3 separate regions of the Homo sapiens genome follow, and regions 1 and 2 are each linked to region 3. Evidence: fine-mapped expression QTL. A gene starts in region 3. Each other region holds a variant in brackets. All regions are shown on one strand. Distances are between the middles of the regions. Region 1 overlaps INPP5B (inositol polyphosphate-5-phosphatase B). Region 2 overlaps MTF1 (metal regulatory transcription factor 1). Region 3 holds the start of C1orf122 (chromosome 1 open reading frame 122).

Region 1 (10,395 bases), 87 kb after region 3:
TATTCAGTAGGGGGCACTGGAGTACAGACTTCAGATATTTATATAATAACACACCTCAGGGGCGAGTCAGGAAAGAGTAAATAAAACAGGAAAAAAAGTCACTTCAGAGTCAGGAAACACCTAAAAGAATGAAAGAGTGAAATCAAACGTTTCTAATCTACATTTTCAAGGGAGGGCTAGACTGCCAGTTCCAAATCCTAGATTGACCACTTGATAATTCTGGGACCTTGGGTGAGTTATATAACTTCTCATTACCTGAGTTTCCCTAACTGTAAAACAGAAAAAAGTACTTACCTCTTAGGCTAAAATAAGATAGTCCAAATAAGAGCAGGGTGCCTGGCAGTAAGTGCAAATAAATGTCAGGTATTATTAAGAACATTTCCAGCCAGGCACGGTGGCTCATGCCTGTAATCCCAGCACTTTGGGAAGCCAAGATGGGAGGATCAGATGAGGTCACAAGTTCGAGACCAGCCTGACCAACATGGAGAAAACCCATCTCTATTAAAAATACAAAATTAGCCAGGTGTGGTGGCACATTCCTGTAATCCCAGCTACTCAAGAAAGCTGAGGCAGGAGAATCACTTGAACCCAGGAGGTGGAGGTTGCGGTGAGCCGAGATCATGCCACTGAACTCCAGCCTGGGCAGTAAGAGCGAAACTCTGTCTCAAAAAAAAAAAAAAAGGACACTTCCTAGGCCAGCTACCCTGGGACAACTTACATTATACCCAAAATGGTCTCAGTACTGTGAGGAGAACCTCAGTCCTACAAGGGACAAGTGAAGGGAGAGTTGCATTACCTTGGTTGCAAGCTTTCTGGTTTATCTTGACCCCTGGAGCTTTGGTCCATAGGCACTCCCTTCCCATTTGGTCTCAAACCATCAAAGTTAGAACCACCTAAAGGGAAGGAGAAGAAATTAAAATATACATACATAGGCTGGACATGGTGGCTCATGCCTGTAATCCCAGCACTTTGGGAGGCCAAGGTAGGTGGATCACCTGAGGTCGGGAGTTCGAGACCAGCCTGACCAACATGGAGAAACCCCGTCTCTACTAAAAATACAAAATTAGCCAGGCATGGTGGTGCATGCCTGTAATCCCAATTACTCGGGAGGCTGAGGCAGGAGAATCGCTTGAACCCGGGAGGCGGAGGTTGCAGTGAGCCAAGATCGTGCCGTTGCACTCCAGCCTGGGCAACAAGAGCAAAACTCCATCTCAAAAACAAACAAACAAACAAATAAATAAATAAATGAAACATACATATGCTTTAATATACAGACAACAGCTTCGGAAATTGTAGTCTAGGAATTATTGGTAGTCCACATATTGCTTCAAAGGGCCTATGCTGATGTCTGGGTGAAGTCCCACAGACCATACACAGAAGGAGAAAAAAGTATCTCATCCAGGTATCTTTACTGCTGAAAGTGTAACTATTCCAGCTAGTCTAACTCCCTTTTCTTGGATAAAGGGTACATTAAGGAAAGAATAAAACCATGAAATCTGAAAACCTGAGTTTTATCACCTGCTTTATTATTTATTACCTCCTGACTTTGGAAAAGCCATCTAACCTCTCTCAATCTCAGTAATTTGACCTGTCCTGCCTTCTTCACAGGTTTAATGTAGGGTCAACTGAGTTGACATATGAGTAGGCACTTTAAAAGCAATACAACATATTATAAAACATAACATAGCGACTTCCACTCTGAAGAGGAGAAAGGCAAGGGTCAGAGATTAAAACTGGAAATAGTCTAAGAGCTCTAGAAAATGAGAAGCGCTTGTCATTGTTGACAAATTGCCTTGAAAACCAAAGAGCCCAAGGGCCCAACCCAGAAATATTTTGGGAAAGTCGTTAAACCAAGATAAACCTGGAAAGGAAAATTAATCTGCCAATAGCTTCTCTGCTCTTTAAAAGCCAGATCTCTTGTCAACAGGGAACAACATGAAGCGGTCACAGAGAGATGTGATTTTAAAACCCAAGTTATGGGAAGGAGCTCTGGAGGAATGAAACACCACTGAAGAATTTTGCTGCGAAGACTATTACTAAACATGGATTTCTCAACCATGCATTCACATGAACCAGAAAAAAACTTTTGAAAAAAGAAAGCATAATCATTTGAACATGAAAATAATTACACCTCAATGCCTCCAATCAATCACCAAATGCTATAGACTGATTATTTATACCCCTGCCCAAAGTCATATGTTGAAATCCTAACCCCCAAGATAACATACTAGGAGTTGGGGCCTTTAGGTGTGAGGTGTTTAGGTCACAAGGGTGGAGCCCTCATGATTGGGATTAGTGCCCTTATAAGGGTTGAGGAGACTAGAGTTCCCCTTTTGCTATGTGAGAACACAGTGAAAAAAGACAGCTGCCACTAAGCCAGAAAGCAGGCCCTCACCAGACATTGAATCTGCCAGCACCTTGATCTTGGACTTCTCAGCCTCCAAAACTGTGAAAAATAAATCTCTGATCTCTGCTTTTGTTTTGTGGTGTTTTTCCTGTATGTTTTTTTATTATTTTCTTTTTCTTTTTTTTTTTTTTTTTTTTTTTTTGGGACAGGGTCTCCAGGCTGGAGTACAGCAGCCTGATCATGGTTCACTGTAGCCTTGACCTCCAGGGCTCATGTGATCCTCCCACCTCAGGCTCTCTGGTAGCTGGGATTAACAGGCACAAGCCACCATGCCCAGCTAACTTTTTGTATTTTTTTGTAGAGATGGAGTTTTGCCATGTTTCCCAGGCTGGTCTCGAACTCTTGAGCTCAAATGATCCTCCTGCCTTAGCCTCTCAAAGTGCTGGGATTACAGGTGTGAGCCATCACACCCAGCCAAATCTCTGTTGCTTATAAACCACTCAGTCTATGGTATTTTGTTATAACAGCCTACAGACTAAGGCTAAAAACTAAGACACCAAAGCCTTTCAATTTTGCTTCCTAAATGCCTCTCAAACCAATATATTCCTATCCCCAGTGTCACTGTGCTAGTCTAGGTTACCAACATCTCCCCTGAATGACTATAAAAGCCTCAACTAGTTTCCCTGCCTCTTTTCTCACCCCACCCTCTCCAACCCAGTTTCTACACTGTGGCCAGAGGATTTTTTAAAAAGTAAATCGGATCACATCACTTTAAATCTTTTAAAGGCTTCATACTGGATAAACCCAAATCCATACATACAATTGCCAAGGCTCTTCCCAGTCTGGATCCTACCCACTGCTCTAGCCCCAATACTCACCACAGTCCTTCAGCCCCTACCTCCTTGATGCCATGCTCTAAGCATATTAAGGTTACTGCAGCTATGCAAAGATCCCGTCAGAAAGCAACTTCCCTCTTCTTCATTCTGCTTTATAAGGCTAACTCCTACCCATCCTGTGCCAGGGGTCAGTAAACTTTTTCTGTAAAGGGCCACAGAGTAAATATCCTAGGCTTTGCAGGTCATACAGTCTCTTGCAACTGTTCAACTCTGCTGCTATAGTGCAAAAGCAGCTGTGAGTGTGGCTGCATTCTAACGAAATGTTATTTAAAGATGCTCAAATTTGAATATCATACAATTTTCACATATCACAAAGCATTATTCTCTTGAATCTTTTCAAACATTTAAAAATGCAAAAAATCATTCTTAGCTCATGAGCTGTACCAAAGCAGATGGCAGGCTGGATTTGGCCTATAGGCTGCACTTCACCAACTCCTGCTATAGGCCATATCTTAGAGGTCATTTCCTCCAAGAAGACTTCTCTAACCTCTCCTAGGCTGGTTAGATGCCCTGACATTGGTGTTTCCATAGCTCCCTGTACTCCCCATCACAGTCTTGATTGCTGTGTACTGTAGGTGTTTTTTCTTCCCAGTTAGACTGTAAGCTTACTGAGGACTAGACTTTGTCTGATTTATGCATCACTGTATCCCCATCATTCAGCATACCACCCAGCACATTATAGGCAGTACAGTCACACAATTCAATATTAAATGCGCAATGAACCTGAATCCCCATGCGTCTATGTTTTTCTTTTTTCTTTTTTTTTTTTTTTTTTGAGACAGGGTCTCGCTCTGTTGCCCAGGCTGGAGTGCAGTGGCGCAAGCTTGGCTCTTTGCAACCTCTGCCTCCCGGGTTCAAGCTATTCTCCTGCCTCAGCCTCCCGAGTAGCTGGGATTAGAGACACGCAACACCACACTCAAGTAATTTTTGTATTTTTGGTAGAGACGGGTTTTGCCATGTTGGCCAGGCTGGTCTCAAACTCCTGACGTCAGGTCTCCCAGTGCTGGGATTACGGGCATGAGCCACTATACCCGGCCCCTGTGTGCCTTATATGTTTAAATACGTAACATCCAAGTTCAAGTCTGTAGCATTCTTTTGGAATGTTTCAGGTAATCTTCCCATTGTCTCCAAAATATAACAAAAATAAGAAAGGAGAACTAGAATGGGTTATGTCTAGAGTTCTACTAACCCATAGTTACTTAATAATTATTTCTAGAAATGCAATCCCCAGCTGGATTCTACTTCTCTTTCTTTACTCTCACTGAGCTATAATAAAGCTTAGAGAGCTAAGGTATTTGAGTTAGTAATGGTGTATTGGGGACATCTGTTAGAATGACTGAAATTTAAAAAAAAGAAAACCAGCTGACAATTCCAATTGCTGACAAGGATGCAGAGGAGCCATGACTCTCATCCATTGATAGTAGGCATGGAAAATCATACAGACACTTTGGAAGACAGCTTGGCAGTTTCTTAAAAAGTTAAACAGTCTTACCATATGTTCTACCCATGACACTCCTAGATATTTACTGATCTGAAAGTA[T/C]GCTGGGTGCACCATGGCTTGTGCCTATAGTCCCAGCTATTCGGGAGGCTGAGGCAGGAGGACTGCTTGAGCCCAGGAGTTTGAGATCAGCTTGGACAATAGAGACCCCTATCTCTTAAAAAATAATAAAATCCCTCTCCCTCTCCCCCTCCCCCTCCCTCTCTCTCTCCCCACAGTCTCCCTCTCCCTCTCTTTCCACGGTCTCCCTCTGATGCCGAGCCGAAGCTGGACGGTACTGCTGCCATCTCGGCTCACTGCAACCTCCCTGCCTGATTCTCCTGCCTCAGCTTGCCGAGTGCCTGCGATTGCAGGCGCGCGCCGCCACGCCTGACTGGTTTTCGTATTTTTTTGGTGGAGACGGGGATTCGCTGTGTTGGCCGGGCTGGTCTCCAGCTCCTAACCGCGAGTGATCCGCCAGCCTCGGCCTCCTGAGGTGCCGGGATTGCAGACGGAGTCTCGTTCACTCAGTGCTCAATGGTGCCCAGGCTGGAGTGCAGTGGCGTGATCTCGGCTCGCTACAACCTCCACCTCCCAGCAGCCTGCCTTGGCCTCCCAAAGTGCTGAGATTGCAGCCTCTGCCCGGCCACCACCCCGTCTGGGAAGTGAGGAGCGTCTCCGCCTGGCCGCCCATCGTCTGGGATGTGAGGAGCCCCTCTGCCTGGCTGCCCAGTCTGGAAAGTGAGGAGCGTCTCTGCCCGGCCGCCATCCCATCTAGGAAGTGAGGAGCGCCTCTTCCCGGCCGCCATCACATCTGGGAAGTGAGGAGCGTCTCTGCCCGGCCGCCCATCGTCTGAGATGTGGGGAGCACCTCTGCCCTGCCGCCCCGTCCGGGATGTGAGGAGCGTCTCTGCCCGGCCGCCCCGTCTGAGAAGTGAGGAGACCCTCTGCCTGGCAACCGCCCCGTCTGAGAAGTGAGGAGCCCCTCCGCCCGGCAGCCGCCCCGTCTGAGAAGTGAGGAGACCCTCTGCCTGGCAACCGCCCCGTCTGAGAAGTGAGGAGCCCCTCCGCCCGGCAGCCGCCCCGTCTGAGAAGTGAGGAGCGTCTCCGCCCGGCAGCCACCTCGTCCGGGAGGGAGGTGGGGGGGTCAGCCCCCCGCCCGGCCAGCTGCCCCGTCCGGGAGGGAGGTGGGGGGATCAGCCCCCCGCCCGGCCAGCCGCCCCGTCCGGCAGGTGAGGGGCGCCTCTGCCCGGCCGCCCCTACTGGGAACTGAGGAGCCCCTCTGCCCGGCCAGCCGCTCCGTCCGGGAAGGAGGTGGGGGGGTCAGCCCCCCGCCCGGCCAGCCGCCCCGTCCGGGAGGTGAGGGGCGCCTCTGCCCGGCCGCCCCTACTGGGAAGTGAGGAGCCCCTCTGCCCGGCCAGCCGCCCCGTCCGGGAGGGAGGTGGGGGAGTCAGCCCCCCGCCCGGCCAGCCGCCCCGTCCCGGAGGGAGGGAGGTGGGGGGGTCAGCCCCCTGCCCGGCCAGCCGCCCTGTCCGGGAGGTGAGGGGCGCCTCTGCCTAGCCGCCCCTACGGGGAAGTGAGGAGCCCCTCTGCCCGGCCAGCCGCCCCATCCGGGAAGTGAGGGGCGCTCTGCCCAGCCGCCCCTACTGGGAAGTGAGGAGCCACTCTGCCCGGCCAGCCGCCCCGTCCGGGAGGGAGGTGGGGGGGTCAGCCCCCCGCCCGGCCAGCCGCCCCGTCCGGGAGGTGAGGGGCACCTCTGCCCGGCTGCCCCTACTGGGAAGTGAGGAGCCCCTCTGCCCGGCCAGCCGCCCCGTCCAGGAGGGAGGTCGGGGGGGTCAGACCCCCGTCCGGCCAGCCGCCCTGTCCGGGAGGTGAGGGGCGCCTCTGCCTGGCCGCGCCTACTGGGAAGTGAGGAGCCCCTCTGCCCGGCCACCACCCCGTCTGGGAGGTGTACCCAACAGCTCATTGAGAACGGGCCATGATGACAATGGCGGTTTTGTGGAATAGAAAGGGGGGGAAGGTGGGGAAAAGATTGAGAAATCGGATGGTTGCCGTGTCTGTGTAGAAAGAGGTAGACATGGGAGACTTTTCATTTTGTTCTGTACTAAGAAAAATTCTTCTGCCTTGGGATCCTGTTGATCGGTGACCTTACCCCCAACCCTGTGCTCTCTGAAACATGCGCTGTATCCACTCAGGGTTGAATGGATTAAGGGCGGTGCAAGATGTGCTTTGTTAAACAGATGCTTGAAGGCAGCATGCTCCTTAAGAGTCATCACCACTCCCTAATCTCAAGTACCCAGGGACACAAACACTGCGGAAGGCCGAAGGGTCCTCTGCCTAGGAAAACCAGAGACCTTTGTTCACTTGTTTATCTGCTGACCTTCCCTCCACTATTGTCCTGTGACCCTGCCAAATCCCCCTCTGCGAGAAACACCCAAGAATGATCAATTAAAAATAATGATAATAATAATAATAAAATAAAATTAAATAAAAATAAAAATAAAATAAGATAAAAGTAGTGGCACATGCCCATAGTCCTAGCTACTTGGGAGGCTGGGGAGGGATGGTTACTTGAGCCCAGGAGTTCAAGGCTGCAGTGAGGTGTGATCTTGTCACTGCACTCCAGCCTGGGTGACAGAGGGAGATCCCACCTCTAAAAAATATGGCAAGAAAAATAATTTTTGTACACATAAAAACCTGCACAGAAAAGTTTATAGCAGCGTTAAAATCACCAAAAACTGGAAGCAACCAAGATATATTTCAACAGATGAATAAACTGTGATACATCCATATAATAAAATATTAAGCAATTAGAAAAATTAGTTATCAAGCCATGAAAATACATGAATGAATCTTAAATGCATATTGCTGAGTGAAGGAAGTCCATCTGAAAAGGCTATTTATTATATGATTCCAATTACACAACATTCTGGATAAGACAAAACTATAGAGACGGTAAACAGATCAATGGTTGCCAGGGGTTTTGGGGGTGAGGGTGGGGTCAAATAAATGAAGAACAGGGGACTTTTTAGGACAGCAAAACTATACTCAAAAGAAACTATAATGGTGATACATGGTAGTATCTATAGCTTTCAAAACCCACAGATTTTTACAACACAAAGAATGAAACTGGGCTGGGCACGGTGGCGCACGCCTGTAATCCCAGCACTTTGGGAGGCCGAGGCGGGTGGATCACGAGGTCAGGAAATCGAGACTATCCTGACTAACACGGTGAAACCCCATCTCTACTAAAAATACAAATATTTAGCCGGGAGCGGTGGCAGGCACCTGTAGTCCCAGCTACTCGGGAGGCTGAGGCAGGAGAATGGTGTGAACCCAGGAGGTGGAGCTTGCAGTGAGCCGAGATCGCGCCACTGCACTCTGGCCTGGGCGAAAGGTGAGACTCTGTCTCAAAAAAAAAAAAAGAATGAACCTTAATGTATACAAAATTTTAAAAAATCATTTAGGACGTCAGGAGATTCTGGAGTAAAATGCAGAAAATGACAAAAGTGTCTAACCTATATCACAAAGGTATGAAACCACCTCATTGAAGGGAGTAGGGGAAAAAGTGTTTACCTAAGTAACTTTAGAAATGAGTGGTATCTATAAGACTAAAGGCACCAGGAGCAGTGGCTCACGTCTGTAATCCCAGTACTCTGGAAGGCTGAGGCAGGCGGATCCCCTGAGGTCGGGAGGTCGAGACTAACCTGACCAACATGGAGAAACCCCATCTCTACCAAAAATGCAAAATTAGCCAGGTGTGGTGGCGCATGCCTGTAATCCCAGCTACTTGGGAGGCTGAGGCAAGAGAATCGCTTGAACCCGAGAGGCGGAGGTTGCAGTGAGCCGAGATCGCGCCATTGCACTCCAGCCTGGGCAACAAGAGTGAAACTGTCAAAAAAAAAAAAAAAAAGACTAAAGGCAAGTGGAACTGTACAGAAGCATTGTACTCTAGTTGATAATGGTGTTCCATGGGGGTCCTGATTAACAATTCTGAGGCCAGACGCAGTGGCTCACACCTGTAATCCCAACACCACTTTGGGAGGCCGAGGTGGGCAAATCACCTGAGGTTGGGAGTTCGAGACCAGCCTGACCAACATGGAGAAACCCCGTCTCTACTTAAAATACAAAATAGCCAGCCGTGGTAGCACATGCCTGTAATCCCAGCTACTCAGGAAGGTGAGGCAAGAAAATCGCTTGAACCTGGGAGGCAGAGGTTGCGGTGAGCCGAGATCGCACCATTGCTCTCCAGCCTGGGCAACAAGAGCGAAACTCTGCCTCAAAATAATAATAATAATAATTTTCTCAAGGTACCTCTAGGCCAAAAGGAATCCCTAACAGTTCTACTTAAGTAGTTAGGGCCAAATAAGTATTTAAGTCCTAACAACTTAGTAGCAATTTGAAAAAATAATACACATAAAAAGATTTCCATTTCATCTTTTTTTTTTTTTTTTATGGAGTCTTGCTCTGTCGCCCAGGCTGAAGTGCAGCGGCACGATCTCGGCTCACTGAAGCTTCGCCTGCCGGGTTCACGCCATTCTCCTGCCTCAGCCTCCCGAGTATCCGGGACTACAGGAGTCCGCCACCACACCCAGCTAATTTCTTTGTATTTTTAGTAGAGACGGGGTTTCACCGTGTTAGCCGGGATGATCTCGGTCTCCTGACTTCATGATCCGCCCGCCTTGGCCTCCCAGAGTGCTAGGATTACAGGCGTGAGCCACTGTGCCCGGCTGAACTACGTTCCACTGGAAGTTTGTCTGGTGTTCCCACAGATCTCCATGTTTACCTTGAATTTTTTTTTTTTTTTTTTTTTTGAGACAGCGTCTCACTCACTCTGTCACCCAGGCTAGAGTGCAGTGGGGCAATCTCAGCTCACTGCAGCCTCTGCCTCCTGGGTTCAAGCAATTCTCGTGCTTCAGCCTCCTGCGTAGCTGGGACTACAGGCAGATGCCACCACACCCAGCTAATTTTTGTTTTCGGTTTTTTTTTTTTGAGACAGAGTCTCTCTTGTCACCCAGGATGGAGTGCAATGGTGCGATCTCAACTCACTGCAACCTCCGCCTCCAAGGTTCAAGCGATTCTCCTGCCTCAGCCTCCTGAGTAGCTGGGATTACAGGCACGTGCCACCACACACAGCTAATTTTTGTATTTTTAGTAGAGACGGGGTTTCACAATGTTGGTCAGGCTGGTCTTGAACTCCTGACTTCATGATCCGCCCGCCTCAGCCTCTCAAAGTGCCGGGATTACAGGCGTGAGCCACTGCGCCCGGCTGAACTACTTTCAACTGGAAGTTTGTCTGGTGTTCCCACAGATCTCCATGTTTACTTTGAATTTTTCTTTTTTTTTTTCTTTTTTTTTTTTGAGACAGAGTCTCACTCACTCTGTCACCCAGGCCAGAGTACAGTGGGGTAATCTCAGCTCACTGCAGCCTCTGCCACCTGGGTTCAAGCAATTCTCATACCTCAGCCTCCCGTGTAGCTGGGACTACAGGTAGATGCCACCACACCCAGCTAATTTTTGTTTTCGGTTTTTGTTTGTTTTTTTTTTGAGACAGAGTCTCTCTCTTGTCACCCAGGATGAAGTACAATGGCACGATCTCAACTCATTGCAACCTCTGCCTCCAAGGTTCAAGCGATTCTCCTGCCTCAGCCTCCTGAGTAGCTGGGATTACAGGC
Region 2 (10,395 bases), 28 kb after region 3:
TCCAGGCTACCTGCCTTCACTTTCCAGGTGCTGTGGCCACCCTGAACTCTGTCCTCTGGTTATTCAAGCCAGTAAGATTGAGTTTTTATAAGTTTGGCTGCCTCGTTGGGTGCCAACTGGGGCTTGCCCAAGGTGGATAAGCCATAAAACTTGCAAGCCTACCCAGTGCCTTTACCATCTTCCAAGCAATCCCTTCTTCCAAGGTTACCTCTGCTTGCTATTGGTTGCTCACCAGTGCCTTTCCACAGTTGTTTTTTATATTTTGTCTAGAATTTTTAGCTGTTTTCTGCGGGAGAGTTGGTCTCATAAGAGCAACTCTGCCACTACCAGAAGGAGAATTAGGCCTTGTCGTGCTTACATAAAAATGCAGGTTCAGATGCCACGGTCAGACAAGCTGACTCAGCAGGCTTGGGGGGAGGCCCAAGAACCTACAACTTCAGAAGTGCTGTAATTGACTCCACTAACCACTCTTTCACAGCATTCCTGAATCATTCAGTCTCTGTTCAAATACTTCCCATCATATTTATTCATTATGCACATAATCACAGAAAATCTAGCCTATGCTATATTTATTTACCAGGAAAAACGACAACAAAAAACCCAAACTCAAAATTAGTGTTAGCAATACTATAAAACTCTCATGTTCAACATGGAGGAGGCTGCATAAGCTCAGACTCAATGCATTGGTTTGTAAGTTGCATCATGGAGCCATGGGAATGGCAGTCAAATTTCCTAACAGCTTGAATCAAAGCAATCAGATTAAGATAAAGTGGGCTTGTCCTTTAGCAGATAGAGGCCTCTATATGTGTAAGAGGTTTTCTTCAAAAAGCTAATAAACCTAAAGAAGGGAAATTTTTCTCTCCCCATTGCACAGAAAAAAAATAAATAAATAAAATTAAAATGAAAAAGGAAAAGACCAAGCCAGGTCATATAGATAGGATTTGAGAAAGTCCAGAAACTAGAATTCTGGTTATGTCTTACAGTACTAGACTTTAAGTTCCTCAAGGACAAACTATACCAACATTTTTAACTACTATAAGCTCAGTACTGGCACAGTGCCTGGTCAATAAATATTTGCTAAATGAGTAAAAAAAAGAAATTTTCTGGGGCCAGGTTACCGAGTGAGTGACCTGCGTCAAAAGGAATCAGGCATCAGAGAGAACAGGCTCTAATAGAACTCTTATCAGAAGAAGAAAAAATCCTACATGGTCAGTAATTAAACACAATTAAATTTAGAAAACTTCAAAGACTGGCCTGCCTCAATTTTCCCACCAAAGGGAGTGCTTAATTCTTGCCCTTATTTTTCTAGCACTGGTATTACAGGTACACTTACCGTACTGGAATTTTCTCGCAATTCAGAATCTGTGGACAGAAGGCTCAAGTCACTTAGACAAAGTGAGTGATTTGTATCCTGTGAAAGAGAAAAAATTCTAATTGAGTAACAAAAATCAGGATTTACAGTGGCATATCATGTAACAAAACATTTGATTACAAAGTCCCTAATGTTCCACATGTCTACATGTATTATCTGAAGAAGTATAAGCCAACCAAAGCAAGGGCTAAATGAATTAATTTTTTTTAAATTATACTTTATGTTCTAGGGTACATGTGCACAATGTGCAGGTTTGTTACATTATGTATACATGTACTATGCTGGCGCGCTGCACCCATTAACTCATCATTTACATTAAGTATATCTCCTAATGCTATCCCTCCCCTGCCCCACCCCGTGAATTAGTTAATTTTTAAAAATCCTGATATTCTTACAAGAATATCTTACATTTCTTAAAAATGATTAATAAAGAGTTTTAGAGGCTGAGAGTGGTGGCTCACGCCTGTAATCCCAGCAATTTGGGAGTCTGAGGCAGGTGGGTCACAAGGTCAGGAATTCGAGACCAGCCTGGCCAACATAGTGAAACCCCATCTCTACTAAAAATACAAAAAATTAGCTAGGCGCGGTGGTGTGTGCCTGTAATCCCAGCTACTCGGGAGGCTGAGGCAGGAGAATCACTTGAACCTGGGCGGCAGAGGTTGCAGGGAGCCAAGATCACGCCACTGCACTCCAGCCTGGGCGACAAGAGTGAGACTCTGTCTCAAAAAAAAAAAAATAATAATAATAATAAAGAGTTTTAACATTATCTTATGACTAAGGCTCCAAAGTAACAAACCTATAATAATGTGAAATTAATACTATCTGTATACCTGGTCTCATCATTTACAGTGATTTCACAGGACCTCATTTGCCATTCATATAAACCTTGGAAGTATTACTCTATATCCCCATTTTTTATTCTTTTTGTAACAAATTGCCACAAACTTATATTCCCATTTTAAATATCAGAAAACTGATGCTCAGACAGTAGGAATCAAGTGCCCCCAAACACACAGCTAATTAGCAGAAGACAAATCCAGTGCTTCTGACTGAAAAGTCAATGGTCCTTCCACCACTGTGTTTCCCACATGGGCACTGAAAGGCTCCTTACTCAGAGTGGTACTGGGGATTTAGAATTCAAATTCCACTGCCCAGACTAAGTGAACTCTGGAGTCCCAGAATGCCAGTCACAATTCACACTTTAGGTGGTAGCCCTGCTTACCTCAGATGCTCCTATTCATGCACACACTCAACAAACATTCATAATGCATCTACTATGTATTAGACACCGTTCCAGACCCAGGGATACATTAATGAACAAACTAAACTCCTCCCCACGTAGAGCTTACGTTCTAGCAGAGAGGACAAAAAACAAATAAATATACAATGTGCAAGAGGATAAGTGTTATGGAGAGTAAGGGCAGTAGGGAACTCTGGGATAGGAGTTGCTCTTTTATTGGGTGGTTAGGGAAGCCCTTTTAGGTAAGTGGCATTTGAGTAGAGAGTGAAGGAAAGAGGGTATCAACCATGCACATATCTAGAGAAGATGTTCCAAGCAGAGGGTACAGCAAGTATAAAGGCCTAGGGGCAGGAGTGGACACTCCTTGGTTCAAGAAACCACAAAGAGGACCATATGGCTGAAGTGAGAGGAAGAAAAGTAGGCAGGGCACAGTGGCTCACATCTGTAATCCCGGTACTTTGGGAGGCCAAGGCAGACAGATCACTTAAGCTTAGGAGTGCAAGACCGGCCCAGGCAACATGGTGAAGACCACATCTCTACTAAAAACACAAAAAAAACCTGGGTGTGGTGGTGCATGCCTGTGGTCCCAGCTAGTTGGGAGGATCCCTGAGCCAGGGAGGTGGAGGTCACAGTGAGCAGAGATTGCACCACTACACTCCAGCCTACAGGACAGAGCAAGACCCTGTTTCAAATAAAATGAAATAAAACAAAAATAAAAGCGAGGTAGATGAGATCAGAGAAGCAACCAGGCCAGAATGTGTAGGGCCCTATAGCCTACTATAAAGACTGACTTTTACTTCAAGTGATACAGGAAGCTACTGGAGGCCAGGTGGGGTGGCTCATGCCTGTAATCCCAGCACTTTGGGAGGCTGAGACAGAGGGTGGGGGCGGCGGGGGTGGGGGAAGGGAAAGACTGCTTGGACCTTATCTCTATTAAAATAATTTTTAAAAATCTATAAAATAAAAATTTAAAAAGCTACTGTGGGTTATGAGCAGAGGACAGACATTATCTGCTTTATGGTTCAGAAAGATCACTCTGGCTGATATATGTAGGACAGTCTATTGTGGAGTGGACAGAAGAGGGGGAAAAGGTCCTAAGAAGCTCACTTAACAGGTTATTGCAATAATCCAGGCAAAAAGACAACAGTAGACTGAATGAAGTAATCAGAAGAAGTGATGGGATTCTAGATAAATTATCAAGGATGAGCTGGCAGACTTTGCTGGCGGATGTGGAGTGTGAGGGAAAAAAGAGTCAAGAATGACTATAAGATTTTTGGCCTTTGCCACTAGAAAACCAGAGCCGCCATTTACCAAGACGAGGAAGACTGCAGGAAGAACAGGTTTGGACATGTTAAGTTTGACAAGAGTAGATGATATCTGGGTGAAGACGTCGAGTAGGTGGTTAAATACACAAGTCAAGACACTGATCTTGACCCTGACTTCTTCCCGCTCACTAACAGATATACAGAGAAGACATTTTAACCTTTGATTGTGATACACAAACAACTGTTGAAGTTCTATGGTACCCAGATCAAGAGACAAAAACACTACACACCTCTGATCCATTGTGTTGTGGAAGTGCATTGTATGAGTGTCCTTTGTTATCATGACCTTTCATGTGACTTTTGAGACTGTATTGAGTGCTGAATGTTTTCTCACAGCCATTACTGGGGCAGAAGAAGGGTCTTTCACCTGCAAGAATAACAAAGTAGTGTTAATTTACCATAAAGTCATTTCACTGGATTAAGAAATCTACCTTTCCCTAATAGAGGTAAGTAAGTATTTTTAAGAGAGTTTGGGTAACAGTTGTTAAAAGTTCAATAAATTACACATTAATCATCTCAGTCCTCAAACTCAATGCTGAGCAAAGCATTGGGAATGCCTACTGCTGGGAAGTTTAAAGAGTAGATTTGTTTCTCACAGGTTGTTTTTTTTTAGAGTGTCTCTGTATTGGTTTCATCTCTTAAGGTTGAATACCTGAGGTCCGCCTCTGAAAGAAACCCAAACATTCTAGGTAAGGCTGAGCTAATTATGCTCACCTGAATATATACAGGATCTATATCTCTGTATATCCACCTAGCTCTACAGGTCTCAATGGAAAATTGATAGTTACAGGCTTGATGAAACAAAAATTGGCCTAAACTCACCAGTATGTGTACGAACGTGAGTTTTAAGGTGGTGGCTTGCTGCAAATGCTTTTCCACAGCCATCGTGATCGCACCTAAATTTGTTAAGGAAAGAGAAACAGGAGTCATTAGCTAATAGATCTTTATCCTGAAC[G/A]TCTTTTTTTTTTTTGAGATCGAGTCTCGCTCTGTCCCCAAGGCTGGAGTGCAGTGGCGCAATCTTGGCTCACTGCAAGCTCCACCTCCCGGGTTCATGCCATTCTCCTGCCTCAGCCTCCCGAGTAGCTGGGACTACAGGTGCCCACCACCACGCCCAGCTAATTTTTTGTATTTTTAGTAGAGACAAGGTTTCACCATGTTAGCCAGGATGGTCTCGATCTCCTGACCTTGTGATCCGCCCGCCTCGGCCTCCCAAGTGCTGGGATTACAGACGTGAACCACTGTGCCTGGCCTCTGAACATCTCTTATAAATAGAAACTAAAACAAATATTCAGAACACTAAGATCAGATCAATGACACTGGTTTTAGAGATGGGAATGATGAGAGGTTCTTGAAAAAGTAAGGTGGCATATCTGGGATCAGAGAGAACTGAGAGCCCAGGATAAGTATTTCTTGTCCTACAGGTAAGGTCCATGTTGAGAGCCCTGACAACAAAAGTCTTTTGATGAATTACTTAACAGACCTCTGTTGACAGTGACAGTCCATATGAAAAATCTGCCAGTGGAACATTAGGAATATCAAGAGTAAGCAAAGTGGCTCTCAAATATGTACATGGCTTGCAATGTAACATAAGAACAAAATCAATCAGAAGATAGGCTCAAGTAACTTATCTATAATCTTGTGTGTCGAGATCTACTTCATTCTCTTTTACTGTCTTGATAACCAAAGCTAAAAGGAATCTTTCCCTCCTCAGAACTCCTAAGGCTTTTCTTTACATTTCTTTTATGGCAACTCTCATTTCCAATCTTATTTTCTCTGTGGATACATCTGGTATCTGCTCTCCTAGAGTGTAAACTACTTGAGTACAGGATCCACGTAGCTCTTTCTGTAGTTCCTGCACATAGCAGACATTCCTTAATTACTTATATGAATGAATGCATTTTCTTATAAACCAAAATATTTTATTTCTTTAAATAGAAAGCTTCTCTAAAGCATTTTCATTTTTAATTACATGCAATCATCATCATGTCTAAAGTCTCATTGAATATTCAAGAAAAATGCAGTTTTAATCATCACAAAAATAAATGCATGTGACTGGATAGAAATCAGAGTCCTCTCAGCAGCCTACGGGAAGGGGGGCGGCGGGGAATAACCTAAGCTTCACAGCATCCATCTGTAGAGTAACCAATTACAATCTAACTACTCTTGCCCTTAAAGGGATCATGACTCAGGAATGCATCTGTAACTTAAAAACACAATTCCTTTTTTTTCTGAGACATGGTCTCTCTCTGTTGCCCAGGCTGGAGTGTAGTGGCATGACCATGGCTCACTACAGCCTTGACCTCCCAGGCTCAAGCAATCTTCCCACCTCAGCCTCCTAAATAGCTGGGACCACACGCATGCGCCACCACTCCCAACTAATTTTAAAATTTTCTGTAGAGTCAGGGTCTCACTTGCCCAAGCTGGTCTTGAACTCCTGGGCTCAAGTGATCCTCCCACCTCAGTCTCCCAAAGCACTGGGATTACAGACATAAGCCCAGCCCACAATTCCATTTGATTGGCATCTAAGAGTTGACTGTCTCTAACGACTTTTTATTTCTAAGTACCCTAACAAAACGAGTGGTTTAAGAAGGAACAGGTAGCATATCTAATGCCTTGAATATCCCCTGCCAAAATTCAAATACATTGTTTATTTTTTTTTTATTTTTATTTTTTTTGAGACAGAGTCTCACTCTGTCATCTAGGCTGGAGTGCAATGGCACAATCTTGGCTCACCACAACCTCCGCCTCTCTGGTTCCAGCAATTCTCCTGCCTCAGCCTCCAGAGTAGCTGGGACTATAGGCATGTGACACCACGCCTGGCTGATTTTTGTAGTTTTAGTAGAGATGTGGTCTCACCATGTTGGCCAGGCTGGTCTTAAACTCCTAACCTCACATGATCCACCTGCCTCAGCCTCCCAAATTGCTGGAATTACAGGCATGAGCCGCCATGCCCGGCCTCAAAGACATTGTTTATGGGCAGTTTTTGGCAATACATCTATCTATATTACATTTAGGGGAAATCCTTACAAACTGATTATCTCATTAAAAATGTCATATAATCATCCCAAAGCTGATTTTGAATACCTGTTGAATGCCTGGAATCATGCTATATACTATGAGCAGAGAAGAAAGTAGATAACCCAAGTCCCTCCTTCAAGTTTATAGTAAATGTATCTATTAGATATACATATGTTGACATATATGAATAAAAATGGATGCTCCTATATGTTTGTGTATACACACGAGATATTACAAAGCAATAATTTGAACAAGTAACAACTGCACCACTAAGCTAAGCATCCCTACCTCTCATTTCCTCTCTTGTCTCCTCATTCCCTCCCTCCTTGATTCTTAGGTAGGTATCCCTCCTCTGGGCTTAAGGCACTTTGGCCATCTTGCAGCCTCAGATATTATCCACAAATTTGTGGTTTTTTGTCACCAGACAAAGGTTCTTAAGAAGAAGGCCTGCTTCGGAGTATTTCTCTAGCACTAATAAAAGTACCCACCACATAACTGAGTTTCAACAAATGCTTCTTGGAAATAAATGGGAAAAAATGAGGCAGAAAGGCCATCATCCACAGAGTAAGGATGTTCTTGGACTCCATCAGCACCCCTCTAATCTGCAGTGGTTGGTTATAGCTGTCCTGGGGTGAGCTAACACTGCTAAATCAAGAGCTAGTAAAGGGAGTTTTCTTTCTTTTTTGAAAAATTCCAGAGTATATCAAGACCCCCAGCTGAAACCTGGTCAGTGACAAATAGAAAACAGTAAGACCTACCGAAATGGCTTTTCCCCTGTATGAGTTCGAATGTGCTTCCTCAGATCACTGAGTGTGGTGAAGTATTTGCTGCAGCCTTCAGATTCACAGTTAAACGTTTTCCCTGTGTGAAGCCTCTGATGTGCTTTCAGCCTGCAAAATATTCCAGAAAAATTCCCTTTGTCATAAAATTCTTTTTTTTTTTTTTTTTTTTTTCTGAGACAGAGTTTCGCTCTTGTCGCCCAGGCTGGAGTGCAATGGCGCAGTCTCGGCTCACTGCAACCTCCTCCTGCTAGGTTCAAGCGATTCTCCTGCCTCAGCCTCCCAAGTAGATGGGATTATGGGAGCCCACAACCACGCCTGGCTAATTTTTGTATTTTTAGTACAACGGGGTTTCACCAGGTTGGCCAGGCTGGTCTCGAACTCCTGACCTCAGGTGATCCGCCTGCCTCGGCCTCCCAAAGTGCTGGGATAACAGGCATGAGCCACTGCGCCTGGCCTCCCTTTGTCATAAAGTTCTACAGAGCCTCCCCATGCCAGCTTAATGTGCTTCAGGATCAAGTGCGTAAGAATTCTATACCCATAACATATTAGTATCCAACATATTTTGCCCCAAAAGAAACGCAGAGAATAGCACAGTGGTATGAGTGTGACTCTGGAGACAGACTTCCTGGGATTCAAATCCTGACCCCACATCCTGCTTGGATGGGGAAACTTAAGCTAGTTATAGAACCCCTCTGTGCTTCCATTTACTTATCAGCTATTGTGGGGACTAGCACTTGGAATCATGCCTAGCACACAGTGAGTATTTTTAAGTGTTAGCTACTGTTATTTCTATTACTTTATACTCAATACTGAAGACTATTAAGTCTCCTGATACAAACGTGAAAAAGAGAATTGGCTACTGAATAGGCCACTCCCCATTTCTCAGGATAGAAAAGTCCTTCAAGCTTAGGTAGGACAGAAGCCTTAGCACAAAGATCCTGAGCCAAGGGGAGATAGTACTCTATGCCAAGCACTGAAATGCCCAGGCCAGAATGCTGCTCCATGAGATGCAAATCTAAACAGAAATGTACTGTCGCTTCTAACCAGCCCAAGATACGTCCATCTTTAAGTAACAGGTTTCTCTAATGCATTTTTAAATTTTTTTCTTTCATTTTCTGAGATCTGGCAGAAATGAATTTTACGTAGTTGAACACAGCTGCGCTCTTTTAAAGCCCTGAAAGTGAAAACAACTCCTCTGCAAGGGGAAAGAGCTCTGCCATCACAACAAGGTCAAGGTCAGAGGCTGGCAGAGCATTGGAGACGAGACTGACCTGTACAGTGTGTTGAATGCCTTCTCACAGCCCTGCACGTCACACTCAAATGGCTTCTCCTTCGTGTGCACTCGCACGTGGATCCTGAGGCTGTAAGAGGTAAGGAAGGCTTTGCCACAGCCCTCCTGATTACAGACAAAGGTGTACTCTCCTCGGTGAGTCTTCTGGTGGGTTCGCAGGTTGCCTGCTGTGCTGTAGGTGCGGGGACAGCCCTCAAAGGTACATTGGTACCGCTTTACCTGGCAGAGAAAAGATACCTCATCAACAGGACAAAAATGCTGCCCAGGGCTTAACTCCCCCACCCAGAGCTCAGCTCCCAAGAGATGCTGTGGACAATACAACTGGGTTTTCATCATAAACACAGAAAACAGCCTCTAGCAGCAAAGTGGAAAAACCTTATTGTTGATCAAATCATACCTGGACAACACATAATGATTTATGGGGAAGAAATAAGTCTATATGTAGATGAATATTCTAAATGAACATAAGAATGTTTTCAGACTCTATATACATCTACCCACTAAAAGTACACTATACTGTTACAGCTACCTGTATTCAGATAAGATCTTAACTTTGTTTTAAGGCTTGACTAAACACCCTGACCTCCAGAACTACAACTTGATTGGAATTACCAATATTAAATTGAGTTTAAAACATCTGGAAATTTACATACTTAATCATCAAACATATTTCCCTAGATTGTTTCCACTGCATATTTTCAAGCCTACAAAATGACAACAACATATTGCAAATTTCTTGGAAGATTTGGTGATGTGATAATTCTCAAACTGCCAGCCTCTTGTTTCCTTTCACCATCAAACTTCTTGAAAGGGGAGTCAATTCTTCACCTCATGGCAGAAGGTTAAGAAAAAAAAAAAAGCTGCTTCTCCGACAAATATCAAATGGCAGATGACTCTAGTGCAGTGGAGGGCCTGGAATGGGAGGCCCAGCAGCTTCCTCAGAGACTTTGGCAGGGATATTGGGGCCAGGGTCATGGCTGTGGTTGGCCTGGAGCCAGGGCTGAGGCCATGGAGCTCTCAGAGGCAAGGCTGAGAACAAGGAGTGGATGCCCATCACCAAGCTGGGCTGCCTGGTCCAGGACATGAAGATCAAGTCCCTGGAGAAGGTCTAGCTCTTCTCCCTGCCCATTAAGGAGTCTGAGATCATTGACTTTTTGCTGGGGTCACCTCTCGAGGATGAGCTTTTGAAGACTACACCTCTGCAAAAGCAGACCCGCGCTGGCCAGCACACCAGGTTCAAGGCCATCGGGGACTACGGTGGCCACATCGGTCTGGATGTTCAGTGCTCCAAGGAGGTTGCCAATGTCATCCAAGGGGCCATGATCCTGGTCAAGCTCTCCACTGTTCCTGTTTGGAGAGGCCACTAG
Region 3 (10,395 bases):
TGGACTGAACCCCTGCCAACTAAGCAGACATCCCACTATTACACCAAAAAGACTGCTCTCCCTGCGAGCAATTACAATACATGACACCACTAGGCCCAATGGCTCAGAGGGAAGAGTGGCCTGTGGCTCTTCAATCTTTATCCAAACCTGGTTCTAGCTTCAGGAGCCTTTGGTCACCTGAGACTTTTTATTTATTAATTTTTATGAGACGGAGTATTGCTATGTTGCCCAGGCTGATTCTGAACTCCTGGGCTCAAGCAGTTCTCCCGCCTGGGCCTCCCAGAATGTTGGGATTACAGGCATGAGCCACCACACGCAGCCACCTGAGACTTTTTAAACAGCACCAGCACTTCTGGCTGGTTTGAACCTTAAATGCCACCACCCACCAGAGAGGAGGCTCTCACTAGATTCTAAATCTGTTATTTAATTACTTTTCAATTGAAAAACAAAACAGACAGAAGAAACTTATTAGAATAAGGCCACCTAGGAATGTTCTTAACTTTTCCATTCAGCTTTTGGCTGATATATGAAAATACAAATAAATACATCCTTTCCCCAGGTGCAAGGCTAAACCAGCAGCTCCAAGGGCTTGGTCTACAGTGCTCAGAAAGACACACTGCCTTAAAAGTCAGGCTAGTGCCCTAGCTCCGGTGGCCTCTGCAAATGAGGCCTTGACAGTCGTCAGTGGACAGACACATAGTATCCAGCACCAGGTCTTGGGCCTTCCTGCTTCCCAGAGTTTCACAGGTAGGACGCATGTGAGGGGAGCAGTCCGTACTTCTGTTGGAGGATGGCTGTAGTACTTTCCAGGGCACTGAGGAGGAAACAGGACAGTTACCAGTCTGACTTCTCAGAAGTCCCGAGCCCACCAGAGGCTGGTGAGCAGGGACATCGAAACTGGCTAGCCTTGTTAAGCCCTGTTCATCAACCCTTGATGAAACCTTTTGAATCCTAAGAAAGCCAGGAAACTTAGTCCCACTGCAACTACCACTTCTCCAAACCTGGCCCACACTCCTTCAGGGCAACATAGGAGGCACCATCTTTATCTTGTCAAAGCTTTTTTGCATCTCTCCAACCTCCCTCAAATTATTTCCCCACACCACAGGAAAGAGACTTACCAGCCTGGACGAATGATGCCAAACTTTCCGGGCACAGACAAATCAACCACAGTTGAGCCAAGGCGACACTCGGGGCTCTGGCCATCCCCAATTTGTCCCCCATCAATAACCAAGGACAACTGAGGCCAGAGATCCTGGAACTCCTGAGAAGAGGGAGAAGGAAGAGCATGGACACTATCCCTGGTGTATCCAATAATGTCAAACTGCACGCAGTCATCAAAGGCCATATAGTCTTAAAACAGAAGGCACTTTCCTCTAAGCAGAGAAAGGAGCTTCATTTAGTTAAGGTCAACTGTGCCAAAGACACTGTATTCTATGAGGTTTGGAGGCCTCCTGGGTTAGCACTCCAAGTAACACCTATCTAGGGTTTAAAGAAAATCTTGCTATGTCAAAAGGAAATTTCACACATTGCTTCAGTTAGGGAAATATAAGTACAATGAATGGAGTTCTGGGCAGAGATACGGGCTATAACTCTAGACTTTCCATCGTATCTCCGTGTGACTGCATGCAAGTTACTCTATCCAGGCCTACAAGACAAGTGGGCTGGACTAGATGATCCTATGTCCTCATTTCATTTGTTCTAATCTATGTAGCCAAGACAGGACTAGGATGATCTTTTCTTTGACCTGGCTTGCCGCAAAGATAAGAGAACAGGGTCAAGAGTCAAAAACTAGGTAAAAAGACCAGGCATGGTGGCTCACGCCTGTAATCTCAGCACTTTGGGAGGCTGGATCTCTTGAGGCCAGGAGTTTGAGACTAGCCTGGTCAACATAGTGAAACCCCATCTCTACTAAAAATACAAAAATTAGCCGGGCATGGTGGCACACGCCTGTAATCCCAGCTACTCACTCGGGAGGCTGAGGCAGGAGAACTGTTTGAACCCGGGAGATGGAGGTTGCAGTGAGCTGAGATGGTGCCACTGCACTCCAGCCTGGGCAAGAGAGTGAGACTGTCTCAAACAAAACAAAACAAAAAAAAACTAGGTAAAAATCTGGTCACTTAATGGCTGCGTAACCTGGAACAAGTGATTCCAGCTCCTTCTAGCTCTAGAACTATGCTCCTGGATCTCACTGCGACTCTGATCAGGGTAGGAAGAGTAGAACATGGTAGATTCTGCATGCCACCAGCACTCAGTCTTTGGGCTATGAGAAGGATACTCCCCCTAGAGCAGTGGACTGAATTGTTAACTGAGCTAGAGCTTCCCCAACCCCCCAAGGAAGACACTGCAGTGGCAGTTAGGCCTGGAAATCTGGGACAGGAAATCATAAATACCAGTTACTGTGTTGGACAGGTCAAATGATTGCTGACAAGGTAAAAACCTCCCCTCCCTGTGCCACATCCCGATTCTTGCTCCTGGGGTACAGCCACCAGGACCAAGTCAAACCTGCACTCTGAGAATGGGAAGGGATGCTGAACTCTCACTTTCTAAGAACCCTGAGCCCCACTCTAGGTCTGGGAATGGAAAACCCATCGAATGGAGTTCTGAGCAGGGATACGGGCTCTAACTCTGGACTTTCCATCGTATCTCTATGTGACTGCACGCAAGTTACTCTATCCAGGCTTATTAGCTGGATGTAATAAGCCCAAGGAAGGCCCAAGGCCTGATGCTGGATACTATGTGTGATACTATGTGTCTGGCCGAGTCTGGGGACACAATGTAGCTTATTACTACGTTTTACATCTTAGTAATAAGAAAAAAAACGAAATTTCTATGTGTCCTCCTTTGTTCTAATCTATGTAGCCAAGAAAGGATTAGGATGATCCTTTCTTTGATCTGGCTTGTGGCAGAGATAAGAGAACAGGGGCGAGAATCAAAAACTGGTTAAAAATCTGAGTCAGTCACTTAATGGCTGTGTGACCTGGAACAAGTGATTTAACTTTCTGGAGGCTAAACTTCATCTTTTTTTTTTTTTTTAAGAGACAGAGTCTCGCTCTAGAGCCCTGCCTGGAGTACAGTGGCACAATCTGAGCTCACTGTAACCTCTGCCTCCCAGGTTCAAGTGATTCTCCTGCCTCAGCCTCCCAAGTAGCTGGGATTACAGGCATGCGCCACCATGTCTGGCTAATCTTTGTATTTTTTATTAGAGATGGAGTTTTGCCATGTTAGCCAGGCTGGTCTCAAACTCCTGACCTCACATGATCCACCTGCTTGGGCCTCCCAAAGTGCTGGGGTCACAGGCATGAGCCACTGCCCTTGGCCTTCTTCATCTTTCTTTACAGCACTGTCGTGAAGATTTATAGCCTAACTGTGTTCTCCAGAAACTGTTATCTCCAGAAAAACAGGAAGACATTGTTCTTATAATCTTTCCTATTATTATAAAGACTGAAGAAAAGACCAATTCTCCCCCTGGCTTTTCAGACTTTGAGATAAAATCTTTCAAATTTTTTTAATTTATATTGCCCCCCACCACCTCCCTGCCAGCTGGGCAACCTTCCCACTGTTGGCCCAAGAACTCTCATGCCTGGCCATCCCAGTGTACTATCAATGCCACTGATTCACAGAAAACAGTATGTGCGCTGGTGACATTTCCAGGGGAAGGACTGGGTAAACTCACCTCGACATTCAGAGAACTGGCCTGGGAGCTGAGGTTGGCACTAGTGAGAGCAAGCGGACCCTCAAACATCTGAGCCAAGTCTTGCATAAAAGCATGATCAGGAATCCGAATGCCTACAAGCTGTAAGGCAAGGGGAAAGGGATCATGAGAAAGGTTGGAAGGGATAAGAGGGTAAGTCTTATCTGGATCCTAGTGAAAGCCAAGTGGCCTGGAGTCTGGGGACACAAGAGAAAACTTGACTCACAGGCGTAAAAGGGTTTAGGTCCTTGTTGAGCTCCTCCGAGCGTTCCATCACCAGGGTCACTGGTCCTGGCAGTAGGTCTTTCAGGAGCCCCTCAGGTACTCTCACACGGCAGTATCTGGGAAACACAGAAGAATAAATCCATTCAAAATTGAAGGGCCACTGGTGGTCCTTTCCTAGACTCTAGGCAGACGTAGAAAAGGAATCCTTCGAGTTTACAATGGGAGCCGCCTGTCTCCCTGCTTCACCTCCCTAAGAGCTTGAGCAGAAAGCAGGGCTCCAGAGGCGCACCCCTGGCTTGACGCCCATGTGCCTCTGGTCTCAGGGACTACAACAGCTGCACCGCTGTGATATCATGATAGTGGGATCAAGCTCCACGTTTTATTTTCTTCAAGGCATTCGCTATTAAATTAAGCTACTGTGTTTGTTTGCTTTTTTCCCGGGGGCCTCCCCAATTAGCACAAATACGCCAAGGGAACAGGGTCCCTGCCTTTCTCGTGTGTTGCTGCTTCCCAGCAGCATGTAGTTCAGGGCCCGGGGCACGTTAAGTCCTCGGTACATATTTCCAGTTCCGGATTCCTTGGTGAGCCTGGACAAGCCCCTCCCGCTCTCTGCGCCTCAGTCTCCCAAGCCTGTCACCGGAAACCCCTCCCGCGGTGCCGCCCCTAGCGGGGCCGGGTCGGGGCGGCCTTACCTGTAGACGTCGGCCACGCGGCCGAGGCATACGGCCAGAGGCTTGGCCTCGCTGCGACCCTTGAGGCGGTACACAGCGCGCAGAGCCGCCGAGCAGCTCGCCGCGCAGGCCAGGCCGTACAGCGTATCGGTGGGGACGGCCACCACGGCGCCGGCGCGCAGCTCGGCCACGGCGGCCCGCAGCGCCTCGGTCCAGCCGGCGCGCTCCGGGCTCGCGGCCTGCACGGCCCCGCTCCCCGGGAGCCGCAACAGCCGGGCGCCGGGGGCCGCCGGAGCGGGACTCGGCGGGCGGAAGAGGCGACCGCTCCGGGAGCCAGCAGGCCCCTCGCTCAACCCCACGCTGGCAGCCACCGCGGCCCTCATCCCCCTGCACCGACGCGCCGGAGACATCCGCCCAGGCCCGCTTCCGGGAGGAAGTGACGCTCCCAGCCAGCTTCCGGTCCAGGAGACTCGGCCCCGCCTCTGCGCCGGGCAGCTTAAAGGGACCACGACCCCCAGGAGGATTGAAGGAGACCGGTGGGGACGGGGCGGGGCGCAGCCTTGCGAAGCCCTAACGCAGCGCTGGGGAGGGGGGCGGCCGAAAGGGGGGCGGTGGTCGGGCCGCGCAAGCGGAGATGGAATGGGGCCCGGGCTCAGACTGGTCACGGGGGTGAGAGGGGGCCCGTCGGGGCGGGAGGAAGGGGCTTGGCCCCGCGCAAGCGCCGGCCCTGACCGTCTGTCTCTCGCTCTCTCCCGGGCAGGGAGGCTGCCGGCGTGGACCGCGGGAAGGCGGGGCTGGGGCTCGGCGGGAGGCCACCCCCACAGCCGCCCCGGGAGGAGCGCGCCCAGCAGCTGCTGGACGCGGTGGAGCAGCGGCAGCGGCAGCTCCTGGACACCATCGCAGCCTGCGAGGAGATGTTACGGCAGCTGGGCCGCCGGCGCCCGGAGCCGGCTGGTGGCGGGGTTAGTGCCCACCCTGGGCTGGGCTGGGGTGGGGTGGGGTCTGCCCACTGGCTAGGCTGGCCAAGCCCTAGCTTACCCTGGAGGGGGGAAGTATGTCTCCGCCGCTTTATCCCTAACCTCCTTTGATCTGGTGAGAGGTTTCGAAAAAGTTAATACTATCCAAATGCCAAATGGCCACATCCTTGTGGGGCCTAATCCAAGGCCTTGCCTCCCAGCCTCACTTTTTTCCTTTCTGTTCCAACTAGAACGTCTCAGCCAAACCTGGAGCGCCCCCCCAGCCGGCTGTCTCCGCCAGAGGCGGCTTTCCAAAGGATGCTGGCGATGGAGCTGCGGAGCCCTGACCATCCCCGAGCAGAATACCCTGACTTCTCTCCCTCCCCAGGGCCGGTGGCTGGACTCTGAACAACTCCCTTCAGTAAAGGGGCCAGTCTTCACTGGCAGTGGCTGGTACTTGGCTCTCAGCCTGGAGTGGCAGCTCTGCTAGCAGCTGGGTTCACTCCCACTTCATCCTGGCTGAAAGCAGTGCTGTGCTTTGAAATGCAGCCAATGAATACCCAGTCTGATTACCCAGATTTGGGCAGACCAGCAGTGCTCGCCAGAGTGGTCTGGCCTGCTATGGGGGATCCAGGTGGTGTTACATGTCCATTTCATGTTTTGGGGGCTTTTAGCCCCACAAAACACCTTCAGTAGAGCCTTGATTAAAAGGAAACCTGCAGACTCTCCTGGTGACCGACGTTTCCTTTCTGTCCCCTCTCCAAGACTGATGGCTGGGAAGGGGGGAGTGGTGGAAAAATGTCAACTATGGGCAGGGTTGGTAAGAAATGCCACAGATACTACCAGATTTAAATAAGCATTTAATTAGGATTTCATTAGTATTTAATATTGCTTTTTCAATTCCAAAAAGTTAAATTTTCACTTTTTAGCAGATATTTTAAAGTACAATATTAAGTTTATACAAAATGAGCAATTAAGCAAACACCATTATTTCACATTCTTCAAAAATACAAATTCATATTTATTCTTTTTTGGGTTTGGAGGTTTCTTCCTTTGGAAGTACTGAACCTGTAACGTTTTCACATCGCTCAGTGGAAGTCCGTTGTTCCCATGTTTCACACTTACTTTTACATAATCCAAATAAAACTATTTGGGATTTTAAAAGTTGTCACCAAGACCCCGGCCAATGATTAGTGTATGTCAAAAAAAAGGGCTCTTGGGGGCTCTTGCCTTTCCTGGCTAGAAGATCTGAGCCAGAAATTCAGCAAAAATCTGTTTCCAGCCACCCTCCCCAAATAGGGACTAGAAAGAGTTCACAGGAAAAGGGAACAGACACCTTGAACTCTGACCCCCACCCCCACATTCTCCAAAACACAACGAAGGATGTAGACTGTTGAGTCAAATAGCCCTTGGGAGGCCTGAGAACACAGCAGGAAAAGGGCAAGAGAAAGCCTCTGACTTGGCACACTACGAGGATAACAAGGATATTGCAAAAAACACCCCTGGGTTTTGGTGCAAAAAGGTTTTATGAAAAATTTTCCCATAAGAAAAAGTAGAAACTGCATTGAGCTGAGAAAGTGACACTACATTATCACCCAATTTTTGGCCCAACAGGCACACCACCAAAAGGGCAGTGTGTGGTTTTAAACCTCAATTCCAGTAAAAAAGCTTGTACTATGTACACATTGACATAAAGATCCAGTTTAATTTGCATTTTTCAGTGCAGACTGAGAAGCCCTCTCTTGAACAGGAGTAACAGTGAGAAATGCCCAGTGGTCGTCGGCTTCCCCAAAGGGCATCAGAAGAAATACAGGACTGTTTCCCTCTCTCCCTAAAAAACATGCAAGAGGAAACAGGCCAAAATGGCTAACCAATCAGAAATATGCTTCAGTTTTGTTGCCTCCACCCCCAAATATTAAGGAACAGACAATTTCTGATCTATGTCACAGCAGAACTATTTGCATATTGGATCTATGAAAATCCTTCTGCTTTGGCTGAAGTATATTCTAAAACTTGTCTATTCTATAGCCTGAGAATTGAAGATAAAATGGGGGAGGTGGAGTAAAGGAAGAAAGTTGATAATGATTCATGGGATGTAATGTTTGTTTATAGGATTTAATGAAGGCTGGAGGCCTTTTTGCTTAAGGAACCAACACAGGTAGTATGGGGAGCAGTATGGAAATGGCTCATGTTGCCCCCTGCCACCCATGCCTCCCCAAACATATTTCTGATTGGTGGTGTAAGACAATTGTAAACTCTTGAGAAATATTGTTGCAGTTCCACAAATCAATGGTTTCAATCACTCTGGAAAAGTCTTTAAGGACAATGGATGTGATTACAAATATAAAAGTCTAGAAGGTGCCAGGTTTCTACCTAGGAACAATCTGTTCCTTCCTTTCAGGCATCATTTTGTAATGGTGAAGAGGGAAAAGATGGCGAGAGACCAAGAAGTGATGAAAAAGGGCCTCAACAGTCAGCAGAAAACAGGACCCACAGCAGTTCTTCAGAGAGCCTGAGGGGGCGCCCTGGGGCACACAGGGAAGGCTTGCATAGATTGAGCGGTTGCTGAGAATGCATAATAGTGTTTCCCTATGGACAGTCTCACAGCACAGGGCTGATTGAGCGGAAAAACGCTGCCAGGCCAGGGCCACATGGGACAACGACCATCAAGCTACACATATTGCACCAAGGTAAGTGCTTTTCTTTTCACACCTCAATTTAACTTTTTATTCTGAGCAAAAAATAAAACTTTGTGGAAAGTATATATATGTATATATACACACAAAAGAAATTGCAGCAATCGGGTTAAAGATAAAATAACCTAAAGTGCTTTTTTATTTTATTATTTCTTTAATATACCAATATGAGGTTCTGCAAACTTGTCCCTCTGGACACATTCAGCATTATACAAAGTCTCTCAGGAAAACCCACCCACCCTCCAATATCCCCATCAGTCCACAGCCTTGACCCTGAAAATAAAACTCTCCGATCTACCAACTATCCCAGAGGTGAAGAAGAGAAGCCCCTTGCCTTTTACTCAGAGAGATCTTCACATCTTAAGGCCCCTCCTGGGCTTTGTACCATGATCTCCTTCTAAACGGAGGTGGAATTCAATAAATGACACCACTTCTGTCACCAAACTGGTGGTGCCCCCATGAGACTGGCCAGACCCTGCCAGCAAAGACTGGGCCACCTTCCCTCAATGCCCAACCTACCTGCCTGGGAAGGGCCAAGTTCACTAAGGCAGTTTGGTGGTGCCAGCCAGTTTCCTTACCACCTCCTAAGTCCATGAACCCCAATCCCTGGTGCTAAGCACCCTTTGAAGCGGTTGTCTAATTGGAGATGTTAGTAGGAGCTAGAAGATAACGTACAGGGTGAAAATGGTTAAGTTTACTATGGGAGGGGAAAAAGGCTTGATTTTTACCTGCTAGAATTCTACAAATCCTCCCTAACCTCACCCTAGGTTCATTTCCCAAGTTTGGGAAACCACACTCACCATGAAGGTTCTTTCTGGCTCCAGCTTAGCTAGGGGCCCTCTCTTCTCCAAGGTCCTCGGCACTAGAGACCAGGCTTATGGAAGGACAGGTAGGAAAAGAGAACTGGAAAAGGAGGGAAAGAAAGACTGCCTATCCTGGGAAATAAACCTGATCTTCACAACCACTCACTGGCATTTTAAGCACATTCCTGATTTTTCAAAAGCTGATTGGATCTGATAGTCTCTCTTGTAATCTAGAGTCACCCTCAAAAGGCAGATACTTCAGCTTCTTCAACTGGAAAAATCTGTCAGCCTAAACACTGTTTAAGATGCTGCTTCGTCACCCCCGATCTTTGAGAGTGAAAAGGCCACTGACCTGGGTAGGGCCCAACATGAGCACAGCCCTGGCTAACCAAGAAGAGTCGCTATTTAAACTGTGGGTGCTTCAGATGTCCTTCCCTGGGCTCCTATTTCCCACTTCCGCCCCAGGGAACCCAAATCCCAGGTGACCACAGGATGGGGATATGGGAAGGTCATTACTGCCCTCTGATACAAGCTTACTTTGGGGTCCCATCACTACTCTCTCAGAAGTTGTAAACAGCAAGGGCCCTACCTCAAAACTTCCCATGGGTGCGAGGCCCAGAGACAGCCAAGGACAACTCATGCTCAGCAGTTGGTTTTCCAGGAGGACTGGAAACCTCCTGCCTTATCAACTTCTGCTGAGGTCAATGGTCAACAGAAGCCACAATCCTTTTGGGGAAGGGAGTGCAGAAGGTCAAAAAGAAGTCAATTCCCTAGACCAGGCATGGTGGCTCACACCTGTAATCCCAGCACTTTGGGAGACTGAGGCGGGAGGATCACCTGACGTTGGGAGTTCGAGACCAGCCTGACCAACATGGAGAAACCCCGTCTCTACTAAAAATACAAAATTAGCCAGGCGTGGTGGCGCATGCCTGTAATCCCAGCTACTCGGGAGGCTGAGGCAGAATTGCTTGAACCTGGGAAGTGGAGGTTGCGGTGAGCCAAGATTGCGCCACTGCACTCCAGCCAGGGCAACAAAAGCAAAACTCTGTCTCAAAAAAAAAAAGAAGTCAATTATTCTGGCTAGGGTCCTGGAATGAGAAATTGGCTGCTTGTAGTTAAGATTTCTTACTGCCATTTCTCCTCATGGCAGTAACAACATTCACCACCACTGCCCTCTTTGTCTGTCCCTGAACATCCTTGCTAAAGGCAGGGAGGGCCTCTGGCTCCAAGGTAAATTATCTGTTCTCAATAATATCTTGGCTGGCCCTGAGCAATGGCTCAGAGAACAGGAGAGTGACCAATGCAGATCCCTTTACATTAGGGAATGAAAATGCAAGGCAAAATTATGGCTGC

The links. PIP is the estimated chance that this variant, and not a neighbour inherited with it, causes the effect. A credible set is the group of variants that fine-mapping cannot tell apart.
Region 1: its variant is the best candidate, but not a certain one, in a credible set for the expression of C1orf122 in whole blood (INTERVAL, PIP 0.50).
Region 2: its variant is the best candidate, but not a certain one, in a credible set for the expression of C1orf122 in whole blood (INTERVAL, PIP 0.67).

Annotation. Positions count from the first base shown.
Region 1 is chr1:37,890,562-37,900,956 of GRCh38, forward strand. It overlaps INPP5B (inositol polyphosphate-5-phosphatase B), which reads right to left. Exons shown (of 24, transcript NM_005540.3): 8 at 797-893. Among named protein-coding and RNA genes, the nearest start is that of MTF1, 36 kb to the left of the region's middle. The variant T/C (reference allele first, on the strand shown) is at 4,784.
Region 2 is chr1:37,830,912-37,841,306 of GRCh38, forward strand. It overlaps MTF1 (metal regulatory transcription factor 1), which reads right to left. Exons shown (of 11, transcript NM_005955.3): 3 at 9,009-9,247; 4 at 7,714-7,845; 5 at 4,760-4,833; 6 at 4,168-4,304; 7 at 1,334-1,411. It also overlaps the pseudogene RPS2P13. Among named protein-coding and RNA genes, the nearest start is that of MTF1, 23 kb to the right of the region's middle. The variant G/A (reference allele first, on the strand shown) is at 4,893.
Region 3 is chr1:37,803,184-37,813,578 of GRCh38, forward strand. C1orf122 (chromosome 1 open reading frame 122) reads left to right here and starts at 4,607. Exons shown (of 3, transcript NM_198446.3): 1 at 4,607-5,256; 2 at 5,348-5,549; 3 at 5,795-6,271. The coding sequence starts at 5,222. The coding sequence ends at 5,890. It overlaps YRDC (yrdC N6-threonylcarbamoyltransferase domain containing), which reads right to left and starts at 5,025. Exons shown (of 5, transcript NM_024640.4): 1 at 4,609-5,025; 2 at 3,918-4,032; 3 at 3,674-3,793; 4 at 1,119-1,261; 5 at 1-814. The coding sequence starts at 4,997. The coding sequence ends at 742. MTF1 (metal regulatory transcription factor 1) reads right to left here. Exons shown (of 11, transcript NM_005955.3): 11 at 6,391-10,395. RefSeq lists silencers at 4,675-4,934, 5,115-5,664.